Homo sapiens: one gene and its partner. The protein of the gene in region 2 binds, or shares a complex with, the protein of the main gene of each other region. Each region holds a gene or a part of one and is shown on either strand. Other genes may lie near its edges.

Region 1 (4,195 bases), on a different chromosome or scaffold from region 2:
GCAGCATGAGGCAGTATGCCTTCCTAACGAATGCAGGAAAGCCAGAGAAGGCTTTAAAATGGGGGTGTGTCATGGGGTTCTCACTGGCAGAGAAGTTCTGGAAACGAGACCGCAAAAGCAAAGGTGCACAGTGGGGACAGCCACAGCCAACAGCCTGACATGTGACACAGCCTGACACATGCAGCCAGACCCACATTGTCCATACGGTGGCCACAGCTATGTGTGACAACTTAAATTTAAAATTTAAATTAGCTAGGAGAGGCCGGCACAGTGGCTCATGCCTGTAATCCCATGAGCCTGTAATCCCAACACTTTGGGAGGCTGAGGCGGGTGGATCACTTGAGGTCAGGAGTTTGAGACCAGCCTGGCCGACGCAGTGAAACCCTGCCTCTACTAAGAATACAAAGATTAGCCAGGTGTGGTGGTGTGCGCTGGTAGTCCCAGCTACTCAGGAGGCTGAGGCACGAGAATCACTTGAACCTGGGAGGCAAGGTTGCAGTGAGCCGAGATCGCACCACGGCACTCGAGCCTGGGCAACAAAGTGAGACTCAGTCTCAAAAAAAACCAAAAACAACAAAAACAAAACAAAATAAAACAAAAACCTTAGCTGGGCGTGTTGGCGGTCACCTATAAACCCAGCTACTTGGGAGGCTGAGGGAGGAGAATCACTTGAACCTGGGAGGCGGAGGTTGCAGTGAGCCAAGACTAGGTCACTGCACTCCAGCCTTTATGACAGGGCGAGACTCCATCTCAAAAAAAAAAAAAAAAAAGTAGCCTGGAGTGGTGGCGCACGCTTGTAGTCCCAACTACTTGGGAGGCCTAGGCAGGAGAATCGCTCGAACCTGGGAGGTGGAGGTTGCAGTGAGCTGAGATCGTACTACTACATTCCAGCCTGGGTGACAGAGTGAGTGAGACTTCGTCTCGAAAAAATTAAATAAATAGGCTGAGTGCGGTTGTTCATGCCTGTAATCCCAGCACTTTGGGAGGCCGAGGTGGGCAGATCACTTGAGGTCAGGAGTTCAAGACCAGCCTGGCCAACATGGCAAAACCCCATTTCTACTACAAGTACAAAAAAAATTAGCCAGGCATGGTGGCGCACACCTGTAGTCCCAGCTACTCAAGAGGCTGAGGCGGGAGAATTGCTTGAACCTAGGAGGCGAAGGTTGCAGTGAGCCAAGACTGCGCAACTGCAGTCCAGCCTGGGCGACAGAGAGACTCCGTCTCAAAATAAATAATGAATTAATTAATTAATATATTAGCTAGGACAAAAGCTCAGCCCTTCTGTCTCACCGGCCATGTCCTGAGTGTTTGCTAGGCACACACGACTCACGCCACCCCTCTGAATAGCCCAGGTCACAGAATATTTCTGCCTTCCCAGAAAGCCCCATTGCTTTCTGGGTGTGGCTGGCAGGGAATGGAGGGCTGGTGCTCAGTAGGTGCACTCCGAGAGGGAGGCAGACAGGCAGCGGGAGAGGAAACAGAGTTTCAATAAAGGGCCCAAGTCAGACTTGCTTGGGACGATGAAGAATCATGTAAGTTTCTGAATGTTTGACTGAGTAGTGGACACTGGCCAGGACCCAAAGCCTCTTCTCTTCTGGGGAGCCCCCACCCCTGTTACGGATCCAAAAGTCAGACGTTCTGTCTTCGCTCCTGACAGGCAGGCTGTGAACACAAACAAGGCATGGCCTGCCAAAGCCGCTAACTCTAGGAAGAAGCAAAGGACGATGTGCATGGTGGTGGGGGGTGCTGCAGCCAGCCTCTCTGCCGGCGGCCCATGCCTGGAACTGCTTCTTCAGCATGCCTGCGAATGCACCACCCACCTGACGTTTCTGCAGTTGGCTGCTTAGCTGCACGAGCTGCTCCGGCACCTGTCCTCCTGCTGAGATACGGCTGAGCACGAGTGGTCACACTGGGAATGGCAGAGGCAGACAGAAAACAGACATTTGAAGAGAACCTTAGCTGGGCTGGCAGTGAGGCAGGTGTGGGAGTCAGAGAGGGAGACCCTGGGTGTGGCTGGCAGGGAATGGAGGGCTAGTGCTCTGTAGGTGCACTCCGAGAGGGAGGCAGACAGGCAGCGGGAGAGGAAACATACGCATTTAACAGATGGCAGAACTTCTAGCTGGAAGGCCCTGAGAACTCAGCAAAGATGCAGGCTGCAGGACAGGAGAGGGCAGGGCTGGGGACAAAGGTCAGGAATGCTCCACACACCGTCACCTGGCTCACTCCTCACCACTCGGCCTCCACTTGCTCCCCTGCTCAGAGTACCCCTTGCCAGCCCACCAGAAGAGCTCCCCTCCACCCCGACACCCTCCCCTGCCCTGCTTTGAGTCGTAGCGCTCCTCATCGCAGAACTGCGCCTCCAAAGTGCCTTCCTGACACACAGGAAGCGCCACATTCACGTGTTAGATAAATGAGAGGACTGAGAAGTCGCCCTTGGAAAGATGACAGCTGTTGCCAAGAAAGGGGCGGAATCTAGGGGCGGCAGAGGTTCAGGAGCCACAGCTGTGGGGAAGGCCGGAGCCAGAGTCTAGTGGCACAGGAACCAAACAGACAGTTTCAATAAAGGGCCCACAGGGTTCACTATGATGAGTGGCTTAAAAATCTACTGCTCAACAGGAGATGGGGCGACCACTGATGGAGTAAGGGGTAGCAGGACCCAAAGGAAAGGTAAAGGCATTAAACTGCGAAAAGGAAGGCCACGCCTTTCTCTGAGAGGCATCAGGGGAAGAGAAATAAGGTTCCTTCTAGCAAGACATGCACAGGACAGCAAGCCTGGGCCAAGTCTCAGCCCACCTGCAGAGCACCCACACTAACCTGACACTCAGCAGAATCACGCTTCCACCGTCCACACCAGACCACCACACACGAGGCTGCTGCCAAATGGGTCAGGCATGGTGGTGGCAGACACCCTTGAAGACCTGGCGTTTTCTAGGTAAGAGAAAAAAAAAATTAGAGCTATTTCTAAGATTAGAGGCCTTCGTAGCATGAAAAATAATGGGAGCAGCTTACAGCCAGTCTCAAATAAGAACGTGTCTGATGAGGATGTAGACACTCCCCAGGGTTCTGAATGGCTTAGCAGGCCTCTGACCTTCTCAGCAGGAGCTGACATTTTAGCTGAACTCTTGCACCTCTGAGGCACTCTAAACCAGTATTTGATCAAGGATCTCTGTATTTATTTTTTTAGAGATAGGGTCTTGAGGCCAGCTCAGTGGCTCATGCTTGTAATCCCAACACTTCGGGAGGCCAAGGCAGGAGGATTGCTTCAGCCCATGAGTTTGAGACCAGCCTGGGTAACACAGTGAGACCCTGTCTCTACAAAAAATTTTTAAAAAAAATTAGCCAGGCCGGGCGCGGTGGCTCACGCCTGTAACCCCGGCACTTTGGGAGGCCGAGGTGGGCAGATCAGGAGGTCAGGAGATCGAGACCATCCTGGCTAACATGGTGAAACCCCATCTCTACTAAAAATACAAAAAAAATCAGCCAGGCATGGTGACAGGCGCCTATAGTCCCAGCTACTCGGGAGGCTGAGGCAGGAGAATGGCGTGAACCTGAGACGCAGAGCTTGCAGTGAGCCAAGATCACGGCACTGCACTCCAGCCTGGGCGACACAGCAAGACTCCATCTCAAAAAAAAAAAAAAAAAAAAAAATTAGCCGGGCATGCCTCTAGTCCAAGTTACTTGGGGGACTAAGTTGGGAGGTCACTTCAGCCTGGGAGGTCAAGGCTGCAAGTTCCCATCTTTCCTTTTTTTTTTTTTTTTTTTTTTTTGAGACCAAGTTTCACTCTTGTCACCCAGGCTGGAGTGCAATGGCGTGATCTCAGCTCACTGCAACCTCTGCCTCCCAGGTTTAAGTGATTCTCCTGCCTCAGCCTCCTGAGTAGCTGGGATTACAGGTGTCTGCCACCACACCTGGCTAATTTTTGTATTTTAGTAGAGACAGAGTTTCACCATGTTGGCCAGGCTGGTCTCGAACTCCCGACCTCAGGTGATCCACCTACCTCAGCCTCCCTAAGTGCTAGGATTACAGGCATGAGCCACTGCATCCAGCCAAGTCCCCATCTTTCTTACTCTTGGTTATAAGGGGGTGCTCTGGCAGCATCTACATCACACCAACTTACTTTTCAGGCCATAGGCCTGGCAGTTTCCTTCTCAAGCAGGAGAGGGAAACCAGAGGCAACGCTGACAAGCCACTTCC
Region 2 (4,233 bases):
TCACTCTCCACCACGCCCCCAGGCCACAAGGCAAAACCCGCCCCTCAACACGCGCCACGCTCCCCCAGATCTCCCCTCGCAGGGCGCCCCCTACCCGCCTCTCCTTGCCTTCAGCTCCTCGGAGTCCCAGCCGGCCCCCGCCCTCCTCTCCGGGGCCCTCCGGGACGCCGGACCGTCAGAGAGGCCCCCCATCTCTTCGCAGACCCCTCCTCCGCGCTCCCCCCGCCCCCCGCCTGCTGTACTACCTCCTTGACCGAGGCTCGATCGCAGATCACAATTTCCTCCTTGTCCTTGGGGGTCTTGACGGTGACCCGAATGGGGGGCCTCGTCTCGGCCCCGCTCGGCTCCGCCATGCCGCCGCCGCCACCCGGCCGCCCGCCAGCCCGCCCGGCTCCTCCTCCTCCCCGCCCGCCCGGCCGGCCCGGCTCGGCTTCTGCGCCTCCAACACTCCCCTCTCTCCACCTCTCCCCTCCCCTCCCCTCCCCTCCTCTCTCCTCCCCTCCCCTCCCCGAGGCTTCACCGCCCCCTCCGGACCAGCCGCAGCCACAGCGCCCCGGGCGGACCGGGGGGGCCACTGCAGCGGGGTCCGCCCAGGGCCAAGCCCCAGGTCCGGAGCCCGGCCAGGGTCTCGCCAGGCGGGGGCCCCTGGGGGGCCTCTGGGAGGGGGAAGGGGCGTGCCCTTCATTGCGGGGGCGAGGGCGGACTGCCCCGGGAGACCGCGACCCAACGCTGCCCGCCCGAGCCGTGCCGCGGTCCCCTCCAGCCCAAAGCCTCCCCGCCCCCTCCGCGGCTAACTCGGCTCCGGGACAAAGGACTTTCTGTGTCGCCGCTTTATCTCCGTTCCCTGTGATAACTTGGTCTTTCTTGGAAGCCCAAGTCCCTTCCAGGCCAGGGGACTTTCCCGACTTGGAGGTTGGGTTTTCCCACCAAGCACGTCCACCTAGGTTCTCAGCTCTGGGACTGACCCTATAGCCCCGAGGGTCGCGGCCTGAATGGTCTATTAAGAACGGTTCCAGGGAGCTGGGTTTTGGCTGCGTGGCCTTTCAGAGCCTTGGTTTCCTCAAGATAATAATAATAGTACCTCTCGCCTCATCGCACAGAATTGTGCATAACGGAGAAAACTGTTTTGAAAGTAACCAAAGGCGTGCCTGACAAATATGAGGATGTAGTATAATTATTGAATCGTGGACTGCCAAGCGGACACGTTGATTCCTTTCTCCCCGAAGGGGTTAAATGTCCTTCCAGCGCTGCTGCTGTCCTTTCACTCCCGTTCTTTTCCGCCCCCCAACAACCGCGTGGTCGGCTTGGAAAGGCGAACTATAATTCCCAGGGTGCCTCGCGAGGCCACAAAGAACTACGATTCCCAGAGCCCCCCGCGGTGGGGCGGGGTTGAGTCGGAACCACAATAGCCAGGCGAAGAAACTACAACTCCCAGGGCGTCCCGGAGCAGGCCAACGGGACTACGGGAAGCAGCGGGCAGCGGCCCGCGGGAGGCACCTCGGAGATCTGGGTGCAAAAGCCCAGGGTTAGGAACCGTAGGCATGCTGCGCCCCAAGGCTTTGACCCAGGTGCTAAGCCAAGCCAACACTGGAGGCGTCCAGAGCACCCTGTGAGTGCAGACCACGGACCCGAGCGGCGAGCGCTGCAGTGGGGCGGCGCGCGGCTCCCTGAGGGAGGGGTGGGGAAGGATCACCAGGAAGGGAGGAAGCGGCAGAGGGGGCAGCGGCTGGGGATACCGGCCGGGAGGTCCCCTGTCGAAAAGGGAAGCCGGTGTGCTGGGTGCTTAGGGCATGTTCCGGGACACGCTCAGGCCAGAGCCTTGCTGGATGTGCCCTTGGTGGGACTTGGGATGGAAACCCAGACGTTTTACTCCCCGCTCTGAGCACATCGCTATCCCTCCCCGCCCCTCACCAGGCTGCTGAATAACGAGGGATCACTGCTGGCCTACTCTGGTTACGGGGACACTGACGCCCGGGTCACCGCTGCCATAGCCAGTAACATCTGGGCCGCCTACGACCGGAACGGGAACCAAGCGTTTAATGAAGACAATCTCAAATTCATCCTCATGGACTGCATGGTATGGAGAGGGGAGCCAGACTTCCCCTGTCCCCCAAAGGGGATCCCAAGGGGGCGACCTGGACCCCATCCTGGATGGTTGGAGGGGCAGGGACAGGATCTCCGGAAGATTACTAAGAGTTGGTCTGCAGCAGCATTTGTAATAGGCAGGACCCTATTCATCAAGTGGTGGTGAGGAAGGATCCCTGGACCTGAGAGGTCTGACTTGGGTTCTGGTCTCAGCCATCCACTTATCAGTTGTGGAACCTTGGGTAAGTCGCTTAACCTCTCTCAGCTTCCTTACCTCATGTTTAAGGAGAAGACAATAATTTCCCTCTCCCCGCTCCCCTCATGGGTTGTTGTGAAGGTCAGATGAAATAATGGGTATAAACAGTAGAATGACGTGCAAACACAAAGTGTTGTCATCCCAGTTTCACCGACTCACAGAACCATGGCAGTCTCCAGACCCTAGTCCAACCCCTTAAGCTTTCAAAGAAAGGAAAATGAAGTCCAGAAAGGGGAAGTCACCATTAGATTGTGAACTTCTTAGTATCTGTTCGGTCGACAAGTATTTAGGTCCTTGCAGTATTCTCAGGACTAGGGAAAAAATAGCAAACAGAAAGACAAAACCCCCAGCCCTAATAAATCTTACACAGTGATACAATCACGGCTCACTGCAGCCTCGACCTCCCTGGGCTCAGGTGATCCTCCTGCCCCAGCCTCCTGAGTAGCCGGGACTACAGACATGCACCACCACACCTCGCTAATTTTTGCATTTTTCCAGAGACTGGGTTTTGCCATGTTGCCCAGGCTGGTCTCAAACTCCTGGCTCAAGCGATCTACCCACGTTGGCCTCCCAAAGTGCTGGGATTACAGGCGTGAGTCACTGTGCCTGGCCACATTTTTTAAAATAAGTAAAATATATAGTATATATTAGGTATTGAAAATGCAATGGAGAGAAAGCAGGGAAGTGAAAGAGTATGAGTTTGTTGGGTGTATGTGTCAGGGACAGTCTCACTGAAAAGGTGACATTTGATCAATGATCTGAAGAAAGGTGGGGGACAAGCCATGTGGTTATCTGAGGGAAGAATATTTTGGACAGAACAGCAAGTACCAAGGCCCTGAGGCAGAATTATGCCTGCTCAAGGATCAACAGGGTTGGTTGGTATGGCTGGAGTTACGTGAGATGGAGGAGGGTAGTAGGAGATGAGGTCAGAGAGGCAGGGAGTGCAGTGCTTGGTTCCTGGCATACAATAAATACCTAGTAAAAGTTTGCTGAACTTACTTTTGTTTTTTTCAAATTGGCCAGAAGGTGAACTCTCCAGGAAGGATCTTCATTGTAACTCAACTGCCTACTCTCCCCTACCCCCTGCACAACCAATGCCATTTTTAGTTCAACATATGACTCCTACTGGATGCCTAGAGCTGGTGCTATAGGGCAATAGCTTTCAAACGTTTTGACCACAACCCAGCCATAAGAAATACATTTTAAGGGGCTGGGCATGGTGGCTCATGCCTGTAATCCCAGCACTTTGGGAGGCCGAGGCGGGCGGATCACAAAGTCAGGTGTTCAAGACCAGCCTGGCCAACATGGTGAAACCCCATCTCTACTAAAAATACAAAAATTAGCTGGGCATGGTGGTGCGTGCCTGTAATCCCAGCCACTCAGGAGGCTGAGGCAGGAGAATCACTTGAACCCAGGAGGCAGTGGTTGCAGTGAGCCGAGATCACGCCACTGCACTCCAGCCTGGGCAACAGAGCAAGACTCCATCTCAAAAAAAAAAAAAAAAAAAGAAATACATTTTAAGGCTGAGCACAGTGCCTCACTCCTGTAATCCCAACACTTTGGGAGGCTGAGGCTGGAGGATTATCTGAGGCCAGGAGTTCAAGACCAGCCTTGGTGACCTAATAAGACCCCATCTCTACAAAAAAAATTTTAATAAATAAATAAATAGGAAAAAATTTTTTAAGAAAGACATTTTAAGTCAGAGCTCAACACACACATAGACCCACTAAAACAAAAGTCATGAAACAATACTTTTCCTACTACATGTAATATACTTCATTTTTTCTTTTTTGGTTTTTAATGCTGATCAACCTTCTTAATTTATCTCCTAACTGTGGGGTCAAATCTGCAATTTGAAAAACATTACCATGGGAAAAGAGGAGAAATACCAG

What was found. The genes of interacting proteins can lie anywhere in the genome.
Region 1: LAMTOR2 (region 2) and FLCN share a complex: the UniProt entries of both Homo sapiens proteins name them as parts of the lysosomal folliculin complex.

Annotation. Positions count from the first base shown.
Region 1 is NC_000017.11:17,229,974-17,234,168, forward strand, and holds part of FLCN (folliculin), read right to left. Parts: intron 2,929-4,195; 5' UTR 2,815-2,928; intron 1,910-2,814; 5' UTR 1,821-1,909; intron 1-1,820. UniProt on the Homo sapiens protein: Multi-functional protein, involved in both the cellular response to amino acid availability and in the regulation of glycolysis.
Region 2 is NC_000001.11:156,053,349-156,057,581, forward strand, and holds the start of LAMTOR2 (ragulator complex protein LAMTOR2), read left to right. Parts: upstream 1-1,433; 5' UTR 1,434-1,541; coding exon 1,542-1,609; intron 1,610-1,914; coding exon 1,915-2,077; intron 2,078-4,233. Other genes in the region: UBQLN4 (ubiquilin-4), read right to left, coding at 246-353. UniProt on the Homo sapiens protein: As part of the Ragulator complex it is involved in amino acid sensing and activation of mTORC1, a signaling complex promoting cell growth in response to growth factors, energy levels, and amino acids.